Regions from separate parts of the Homo sapiens genome. Here region 2 is linked to region 1. Evidence: fine-mapped QTL for protein levels in blood plasma. Region 1 holds a variant in brackets. A gene starts in the other region. All regions are shown on their reverse strands.

The links. PIP is the posterior inclusion probability: the model's chance that the variant is causal. Protein levels are from antibody-based Olink assays in UK Biobank. Linkage for the fine-mapping came from a reference panel and not from the study's own genotypes, which makes the PIPs less certain.
Region 2: it holds the start of CRISP2, and the variant in region 1 is fine-mapped to the plasma level of the CRISP2 protein (UK Biobank, PIP above 0.99).

The regions. Positions count from the first base shown.
Region 1 is chr20:32,739,088-32,744,467 of GRCh38, reverse strand. COMMD7 (COMM domain containing 7) reads left to right here and starts at 1,001. Exons shown (of 9, transcript NM_053041.3): 1 at 1,001-1,160. The coding sequence starts at 1,077. RefSeq lists enhancers at 1-450, 1,338-2,165, 2,835-3,336 and silencers at 746-975, 1,156-1,225, 2,210-2,384. The variant T/C (reference allele first, on the strand shown) is at 2,570.
Region 2 is chr6:49,710,612-49,715,991 of GRCh38, reverse strand. CRISP2 (cysteine rich secretory protein 2) reads left to right here and starts at 2,449. Exons shown (of 10, transcript NM_003296.4): 1 at 2,449-2,517; 2 at 3,388-3,491; 3 at 4,671-4,707.

The DNA of each region.
Region 1 (5,380 bases):
AGGCCAGCCAAACCCCCCACATTTCCCTGCTCCAGGTTTCTCGGCATTACCTCTTTACCCTCAAGGCTGGACTTAGGGGCTAGGTGAAGCCCTTAGGCTTGGCGTTCAGTTCCTAGATTCTGGGTAGCATGTCTCTATTTTCTCATGTTTCCAGTGGGGATTAGGGTAATATTCACCTGGGAACTGTGAGGAGCCCCTGGGAAGAGAGGGCATGGGGGTTAGAGTGTTTGAGGGGCTGCAGTGATGATCACGGTCTCAGTAACCTCCCCTCACCCACCTCACCACCACCCTCCCTGCCCCGCACAGTCAAAGCCCTCGCACTATTTTGAGGAAACTTTGGTAAGTCAGTTTCTTCCACTCCAGAAGGTCTCAAAGTGTAGTCCCTGGGTGCTTATTGGAAATGCAAATTCTCAGGCTCCACCCTGGCCTTTCGAATCAGATCCTCTGGGGGCGGGGCCCGGCAATACCAGGTGATGCTGGGGTGATGCTGATGCCCTTCCAAGGTTGAGACCTAGTCTCTACTCTGATGTCAGCTCTCCGAGAGACACTCTGGCCTGCTTTGTTCCCTTCCCTGTCCCCAGTGTCTGGCATCGAGTAGGCTGCCATAAATATCTCTGGAGTGCATAGTAACAGTGATGATGATAATAGCAGCTAGCCATTGATTGAAGACCTCTTGTGTGCCGGTCTCTGCGTTAAACATTTCTGGAGGCTTAACTCATTTAAGGAGCTACCCCAGCCATCATTTTCTCAGATGGTGAAACTGAGGTTCAGAGAGGCCAAGCGCCGTACCCAAAGGTCACTCAGCGGGAGAGCTGGCAGGAAACCTCGCGTCTGCCGGTGCCGGCGCCGCCCCTGCCCCTCCCCGGAGCCCGGCGGCCGCGCGTGTCCGCGGCCCTGCGAGGGCTCCCCGGCTCCGGACAGCCCAGGGCGGCCGGGGGAGGAGTGCGCTGCGACGGCCGTGGCGAAAGTGCGGTTGTGGATGCGCGGAGAGGCCGGCAGCGGTGGCAGCGGCAGCGGAGGAGGAAGCTGAGCAGGGCGGCGGCGGCGGTGGAACCTGCGGGGCTGGGGCGCGCGCCATGGGCCGCCTGCACTGCACTGAGGACCCGGTGCCGGAGGCCGTGGGCGGCGACATGCAGCAGCTGAACCAGCTGGGCGCGCAGGTGGGCCCGGCGGCGGGGCGTGGGGCGCGGGGCCCAGGTGATTCCAGGATCCGGGCCTGGGGTGGGGGGGACGTCCGGGGGTGCGCGGGAGTTGGGAGAGACTAGACAGAGCGGCGTCTTGTGGGCGTTTGGGGTGTGTGAGGTGGGTTCGGGGCGAGGCTAAGGTGAGCTGGGGTCTGAGGAGAGTGTGGGGAGCCAAGGGATCTCCGGAGGCCTAAGGGCCACCTGAGGGGTCCGAAAGGCTTTGTGGGGTCTCAGAGATGGGACTACGGGACCTCTGCGGGGTCCTGGGGCCGAGGAGAGCTTTTGGGGTCCTAGAAGAGGGACGGAGGGGAGTCTAGATGAGGCTGAAGGAGTTTGGGGAACTGAAGGAACAGACTAAGGGCGTGGGGAGTTTTGGGGAGCAGTGGGGTCCAAAGGGAGATAGATGTTTGGCAGGGAGGCCGAGGAAGCCTGAGGGGAGTGGGAGGGCCCGAGAATCTGAGGGGGCCCGGGGAAGCTTGGCCTGGGCTGCCGTCTTACATCTCAGTGTGACATGAGTGTCAGTAATAGCCAGGCCCCACTGGGGCTCTGTGGGCCTGAGGGGCTCGATCTGGGACAAGGCTGATGACACCTTCCACCTCCACCCAGTTAAGGAGAGTCACTGGGATTCACATGGAAAGAAACCTTATACACTGTGTACAGTGGGGGTCTTCATCCTCGATGGTAGGGGAGCTAGCAAAGCCTTTTTCTCCCCCTTCAGGCTGCAGGTGCCAACCAAGGCAGTCTTGGAGGCATCCTGCTTCTGTGCTGGTTGGGATGCCTTTTCATACCACCAAGGCTGCTGAAATAGGTGAGAATGACACTTCTCACCCCCACTGGGAAGATACATCTATTTCCCCCGCTAGGTTGTCACTTCCCAGGAGGTAGCGCCCCTCTTCTTTCATCTCCATACCCCCCACAACTTCCCACACAGTAGTGCTGCTTGCGAGATAAAAACCAAACTTAGAACTTGTAACGACAGGAAGGTTCTAAGCTTGAGCTATGCAATAGAAAAATTTGCAAGCCACATTTCTAACTTTGCATTTTGTAGTAGCCACATTTAAAAATTAAATAGAAATGGAAATTAATTTTTTTTTTTTGAGACGTAGTCTCATTCTGTCACCCAGGCTGGAGTGCAGTGGCGCGATCTCGGGTCACTGCAACCTCCGCCTCCCAGGTTCAACCAGTTCTCTGTCTCAGTCTCCCGAGTAACTGGGACTACAGGCACACGCCACCATGCCCAGCTAATTTTTGTATTTTTAGTAGAGATGGGGTTTGACCATGTTGGCCAGGCTGGTCTTGAACACCTGACCTCAGGTGATCTGCCCACCTCAGCCTCCCAGAGTGTTGGGATTACAGGCGTGAGCCACTGTGCCCAGCCCTGAGTT[T/C]ATCTTATGCAAGCATCCTAGAGTTTATTTACACAAACCTACTGCACCCTAGGATATATGGTATAGCGCATTGCTCCTAGGCTACAAACCTATACAGCATGTGACTGTACTGAATACCATAGGCAACTGGACTATAATGGTAAATATTTGTGTGTTTAGACAAATCTAAATAGAAAAGGTACAGTACAAATACAGTATAAAAGATAAAAAATAGGCCGGGCACGGTGGCTCACACCTACCCTAGGACTTTGGGAGGCCAAGGTGGGCGGATCACAAGGTCAGGAGATCGAGACCATCCTGGCCAACATGATGAAACCCTGTCTCTACTAAAAATACAAAAATTAGCTGGGTGTAGTGGCGGGCACTTGTAGTCCCGGCTACTCTGGAGGCTAAGGCAGGAGAATCGCCTGAACCTGAGAGGTGGAGGTTGCAGTAAGCTGCGATTGCACCACTGCATTCCAGCCTGGGCAATAGAGTGAGACTTCATCTCAAAAAAAAAAAAACAACTTTCTAGTTGGGTACGGTGGCACAGCTACCACAGTAGTCCCAGCTACTTGGGAGGCTGAGACAGGAGGATCACTTGAGCCCAGGATTTCAAGGCTGTAGTGCATGGTGATTCCACCTGTGAATAGCCATTGCACTCCAGCCTGGGCAGCATAGTGAGACCCCCATCCCTAAAAAAAAATTTTTTTTTTTCTGTTTTTGATAAGTTGACCTTAGCCTACTGTCAGTTTTTTTTTGTTTGTTTGTTTGTTTTAGACGGAGTCTTCCTCTGTCACCCAGGCTGGAGTGCAGTGGCGTGATCTTGGCTCACTGCAAACTTCACCTCCTGGGCTCAAGTGATTCTTTTGCCTCAGGCTCCCAAGTAGCTGGGACTACAGGCGTGCACCACCATGCCTGGCTAATTTTTGTATTTTTAGTAGAGACAGCGTTTCACCATGTTGGCCAGGCTGGTCACGAACTCCTGACCTCAAGTGATCTGCCTGCCTCAACCTCCCAAAGTGCTGGGATTACAGGCGTAAGCCATGCACCCTGCCAACTGTAACTTTTTACTTCATGAATGCTTACCTTTTTTTTTTTTTTTTGAGGCAGGGTCTCGCTCTGTCACCCATTGCTCACTGTAGCCTTGATCTCCTGGGTTCAAGCAATCCTTCCACCTCAGCCTCCCAAATAGCTGGGACTATAGGCACGCGCCACCATACCTGGCTAATTTTTGTATTTTTTGTAAAGACAGAGTTTTGCCATGTTGCCCAGGCTGGTTTTGTTAAACTTTTTGGCACTTTTGTAGTAACACATAGCTTAAAACACAAACATGGCTGGGCGCGGATTTCTGTGACAATCACTAGGTAACAGGGGATCTTTTACCTCCATTATAATGTTATGGGACCATCATTTTATATATGGTCCATCATTGATCAAAATGCCATGCATGCTTAAATCCACAATATCAAAATATTTTTCAATATCTTACCCATATACAAATATCAATGACATTTTACTTTTTGGTACAAAGTTTTCTAAATCTGGTGTTTTACACTTACGGCACATCTTAAAGTAGTTTAGCCCTTTTCTTTTTTTTTTTGAGACAGTGTCTGGCCCTGTTGCCCAGGCTGGAGTGCAGTGGCGTGATCTCGGCTCACTGCAAGCTCCGCCTCCCGGGTTCACGCCATTTTCCTGCCTCAGCCTCCCAAGTAGCTGGGACTACAGCTGCCTGCGACCATGCCCGGCTGATTTTTTATATTTTTAATAGAGATGGGGTTTCACCGTGTTAGCCAGGATGGTCTCGATCTCCTGACTTCATGATCTGCCCACCTCGGCCTCCCAAAGTTTTGGGATTACAGGTGTGAGCCACCGCATCCGGCCAGCCCTTTTCTTTTTAAAGACAGTCTCGCTTTGTTGCCCAGGCTAGAGTGCGGGGATGTGATCTCGGCTCACTGAAACCTCCGCCTACAGGGTTCAAGTGAGTCTCATGCTGCAGCCACTCAAGTAGCTGAGATTACAGGTGTTCACCACCATGCCCATCTAATTTTTTCTTGTATTTTTAGTAGAGATGGGCTTTCGCCATGTTGGTCAGGGTAGTCTCGAACTCCTGACCTCAAGTGATCCACCCACCTTGGCCCCCCAAAGTGCTGGGATTACAGGAGTGAGCCACCACCCCTGGTCAGATTAGCCCTTTTCAAGCGCTTATGTGGCAAGTGGCCACTGGACAATAGGGATCTAAGTGCTTTTATGTATTTTTTTTTTTTTTTTTTTTGATACAGAGCCTTGCTCTGTCACCGAGGCTGGAGTACAGTGGTGCAATCTCGACTCACTGCAAGCTCCACCTCCCGGGTTCACGCCATTCTCCTGCCTCAGCCTTCCGAGTAGCTGGGAGTACAGGCACCCGCCACTACTCCCTGCTAATTTTTTGTATTTTTAGTAGAGATGGGGTTTCACCGCTTTAGTGAGGATGGTCTTTATCTCCTGACCTCGTGATCCGCCCGCCTCAGCCTCCCAAAGTGCTGGGATTACAGGCGTGAGACACCGCGCCCAGCTTATGTATGTTAACTAATTGAGTCCTTGCAATCACTTTTATAGGTAGTTGCTGTTATTATTTTAAATTGAGACAGGGTCTCCCTATGTTGTCTAGGCTTGTCTTGAACTCATGGTCTCTGGTGATCCATCTTGGCCTCCCAAGGTGATGGAATTACAGGCATGAGCCACTGCACCCAGCCACTTATTATTATTCACATTTTACAGACGAAGAAACTGAATCACAGAGCAGTGAAATGAACATAGCTATTATACGATATTAATATATTGAGCATGCAC
Region 2 (5,380 bases), not on the chromosome of region 1:
CCATAGGCCACAAGTGCCAGCAGCTGCACAGATACTTCTCTATTCAGCCAATTCTATCATAATTTTCACAAGAGAATTTAAAGTCTGGTATTTAACTATATCCTATACAGTAGAATCTGCTATAGAGCCTACTATGAGGAATGCATTTCTAATCATTGCTTCTTTTACTCCAAACCATAGAAAAAGGAACTAACAAATGATGCCCTTCTAGAAAAGCAAAGGACTCCTGGCAATGTTCTTAGAAGTACCTGTACTATTCCTCTCAGTAATGGAGATCTACTTTCCATGTGCTCTCCAACACATTCAGGCACCAAACTTACAAGTCTTCTATTCTGGATTTGCCCTTCATACAAAATCTATCAACACTTTTTAAAAATCTCTTCATATTCCACCCTTTTGTCCTATTTCTACTACTACAAAATTAATCTGGGGAATTGTTACCACACTTATTTTTGCTGCCATCAATTTCTCAGCTCTGTAAATCACCCCATGCAGTGAGATCAGGTGGCTTTTATGAAACATTCTTTTGATCAAAGAATTTCCCAACCCTCCAAAATGTCAATGAAATTACTTTCCCATGTTATACAGAGAAGCAAATCTCCTTAGACTTCTATACAAAGTTTCCCCAACCTTTTCAACAGTCTTTCTGTCTTGAATATGCCTTGTGATATAATGATTTATCTGCTTTTGTTCTTCAACTCTTTCTCCCTTCAAATCAAGCCATACGCATTATTCAATAACAGTTCAAATGTCAAAACTTTCCTAGGTTTTACCCAGATCATATCAACTCACAGAACTCTCAATTACTGTATATATTTTTGGTCGCCCTACTTAGCATTAAACTACACTACCTAATAGTATTCTTTACTTATTCATATACATACTCCTTTCTCTCATAGTACTATGAGTCTTAGAAGAAAGAGATTTTATGTCCTTTTTTCTGTATTTTCTAAGAATCTATGTCGGGTCAATATTTACTCACTTAACAAATATTTACAAACTACCACCTATATTTGGTATTGTGTTAGTTTTGGAGATACAGCAATAATCAAGACAGACATAGCCAATTTCTGAAATTCAGGTTCACCAACAATATCTGGCACCACAGCGCTCAAGTTGCTCTCATTCTGATATCATCAATGTGAATATGGGAACAAGTAATAATTACAGGAATGACTCTTCTCCAAAAATGAAAAATAAGATATTCACAGTAAATGATAGACTATTATAGTGCTGAGAATGAATTGTTCGGCACTAGAAAGAAAGAACAAATAGGTAGGCAGAGATTTTGTGCATATAGGTATTTGAAATGTCCAATTAATAACTTAAGCAAGATATGGTGAAAACATGAATATAGAAGTGAGGGACAGATTGAGGACTAGATTTCATAAATATTTAGAAAGGCAAACTGTCAGTAATGAATTTTGATATTGGATGTAGATATAAGCGTTAAGCAGTCTAAATTCCAAAATTTTTAGTCAGTGCTGCATGAACTGAAATAAGCAGCAAAAGAAAACTAAAACAATGTCTGTGTGCTGATCCCTTGAAATTACCTTGTAACACTGCCAAAGGAAAATGGCACTGAGCACCAAGTTTGTTATAGTTTCAGTTGTGCCCAAGTGAGTCTCCAGAGTTGGTGAAATCTCAAGCCTCTTATTGCATGGCTTACAGAGAACCAAGGTATGACGGATATTAATCCTTGGCTTGACATCTTTTGACCCATCTCTCTTCCTCTAGGTCATAAGCGAATTCACTCCTTTTCGCTTTGAAAACAACTGTGAATAGAAGAAAATGCACCTATTACTCATCCGCCTTCTGAGAGAGAAAACATGTCTTTAACCCATGCTTGATACGTATGCTAAACTTGCAGCCAGTAGCCTTGGGTCAGGAGTTCTGCGTATTTTCATAAGAGTTGTTCCTGTTACTCTTCGTGAATTTTCTCACCATAAAACTGTTGCCAACGGGGAAGAGGGACAAGAACATGAAGTGTTTATGAGGGAGCCTGAAACTGACAACCTGTGTAACTGGAGTGCGTCGTTGGCATGACACTGGCAGCGCACTGCAAACTTAAGCACCTGTGGACTCCTAATTAGCTCTTTAAATTGAACTACATTAATTCAGGCATTCTTGTTTGAATGCGAACGCCTCCTTTTTCAAGCCACCCCCTGGGCAACCCGAATCCTTATATGACCTCCCTCCTCCTCCTAGTACGGCGCAGGTATGCGAACAGACATTTTCTTTCCTCATCAACTGGTGGTAATGAGAAAAAGAGAACTCTGCTTTTCACAAGGGAAAACGTGCAAGATTTTCTCCGTAGTAGGGGAGGCGGGGGCGATGGGAGGAGAGCAGCTCACGTAGGCAGATAGCGGCGATGAAAGCATAAAGCCCAGTGACGTCGCCCACACGTGGCGCCTGGCAAGTGAACAATCGCGGTGAGAGGGGCGCGCCGCAGCTCCTCAACGCCGCAACGCGCCGGCCCAACTGCAGGAAGGTCTGTGCTCTGGAGCCAGGGTAAATGTAAGACCCGGATTGGAGACTAGAAATGGCTAGGGACGGGGAGGTGGGGTGAAGCACAGGGGAGAGAACCATCGTTGAGGTGAGGGGGTTTCTGATCCTCCTTCGCTCCTCTTCCGGCATCTGGAGGGCACATAGCTAATGCCGGGCAGACTGAGAGTTCAATTTTGTTGCTTAGCGCCGACCTACCATAACTTTCAACATGCTTCTCTATGTTTAGTCTATTGAAACTCTTTACCTACCTTAAAAGAGAAATCATTCTAAGTACATAAGACCCATTGAATCATAGTAGAAGCCTGAAGTCATTTCTCAATCTGCTTTTTACGAAGTCAAATTAAGACTCTTAGTTTCTAATTGATGTTTTGAATGTACAGTTATTAGAAACTGTAATAACAATTAGAGTTGGGGTCATTGACTCTGCTGGACTTTATATCATCTATTGGCTTCCAGAATTTAAAAAAAAAATGAAGAGACAAAGCTGTTACCCCCAAATCCACGTAGTTAATACTTACCATGTGGGACACTGCTTATGGAAATGATCTTTTAAAGAATGGGTTGAAGTCCTAGATAAGGGGTTGGGAGTCTTGAAAAAAGGTTGCAATTTTCCAAGCAAGTTAGCCAACTAGTAGTTACTGAACTTCAAGAAGTCCACTTTTTTGTTAGTGTTTGAAGGAAATATCAGGGCGTTGAAATACAATCTGACCTCAGAAGGACAATATGGTCTTAACGCTGAAATCAAATAAATACAGTAAATTATTAGAAACAATACTAAACAATTGAGTCAAAATTTAAGTTTGTGACAAAGATTATAGATACCATCTATAAGGGTATTCTTCACATCTTTATTTTAAATATTTTGTTTCCTTGTTCTAGGGTTATAAAATTATACACCATGGCCCTCCTAAAGACACTCTAGGAAAACCATGTCATCCTGATCTTAAAACACCTGCAAGAAAGAGCACAGTACTTCACCATTAGTAAGTAGCAAAGAAAAAAAATGGTAGCCAACTTTTCAACTATATATCAATATGGGTTTAAAGGAATAAAATGTAATTATATGGAATAGAAAAAAATATTTTTCCTTGAATATACTCTCACCAACAGTGACATTGCTTTCATTGACTCAATGAAGATGAGTATAGGTTAGATGGTTGAGGTTATGAGAGAGAAGAGCAGCAAAGAGGAGAGTATGGCATCATGGCCTATTATAGAATTCTGGCTCATCAGATGCATACACTGGGTGATTGAGCTATACAAAACTCTTCAGGCTCCTGTGTATGGCTTTCAATGAGCTGATGAGGATACAACAGCCCAGATGTTAGAGCATTTTCCTAAAGTCAGCCAGAAGGTGTCTAATAGAACCAGGCCTTGAACATGTGAATCTCGAATTAGATTATACTGATTGTATTTTCCTATAACACCTGGAAGGAAACACATGTCTCTTAAACACTTAGTAATTAGCAATTCAATCAAACAGCATATGTTTATAGAAAGCTCTTATGAGCTCAACAAACTAGCAGACATTGCAAAAGATAATAAAAACATGAATAATTTCCGTTTATTTGTATTATGTGCATAATGTGTTTATTGTATTAGAGGTGTTACATACATTGTCCCTTCCAGTCTTCAAAGCAAAAACCTGTGATATAAAAATCTACATTTTACATAAGAAAAACACTGAAGCTTGGCATAGATTTCCCAGACCTGATGGTTTCCAAAGAATGCACCCGTAACCAATAAGCTACAGGTAGTTGATAATTAGAAAGTAAAAATCATAGACAGCTGAACTATGAGAGTTCAGCTATAAGGCAGAATCCTGGTAACCTTCACAGTAGTTAACCTGTCTTGGGTTGTCAATATAGAAATACTAGTCCAAAAAGGCCACATGCAGATTATCGTGTGCCTAAGGAGAAGGGAGAACTGATTAGAAAGGGAGGGCATGATTTACTTACTCATGTTAAAAACTATGTGGGAAGCAAATAATGTCAAAAGCATTATCAGACAACTGACAATGAAGTTTAAGGTTACTGGTATGAAAAATACTACTTCAGAACTTTGTTGACTTAGATTTATTTAACAAAACCAGAGTTTGACAAAACAGGAATATGTGTAATATATATGCTGCTCTAAACCTTCCACCTTCTTTCTTTCTAAAGATAAAGTAGATATTTCATCCTGCTCAGAAAACCAACAGTAAGTGTTAAATCATTGATTTTAATGTGAATATTTTATCATGCCAATCATTTTTATGTTGTCAAGGGTAAAATGATTAATGAGTTTGCCCATGATTTTATTTTTTTGTTTTTTGTTTGTCTGTTTGTTTGTTTGTTTTAGAGACAGGGTCTCTTTCTGTCACCCAGGCTGGAATGCAGTGCTGTGATCATAGTTCACTGCTGCCTCAAACTCCTAGGCTCAAATGATCATCCCACCTCAGCCTCCTGAGTAGCTGGGACTACAGGCACTTGCCACCATGCCCAGCTAATTATGTTTTGTTTTTGTTTGTTTGTTTTTAGTAGAGATGAGGTCTCACTGTGCTTTCCAGGCTGATCTTGAACTCCTGGGCTCAAGTTATGTGCTCTCACCTCAGTCTCCCAAAATGTTAGGATTATAGGAATGAGCCACTGTGCCTGGCCTATCCATGATTTTCAAAACTTTAATAAATTTGTATTGAGAATGACCTCAAGTTAATTTTATTCTTTTACAGTTAAGAAGGTAAATTACAGCAATATTACGCACACACACAAAAAAATTTGATATGTAAAAATTTTTTACATTTTATTCTAAAAATAAGTAATGGAATTAATTCTCATGTTTGTGACTTGAGACAATTATACTAGAACTACCTTTAATAGGAAAATGGAAAAGT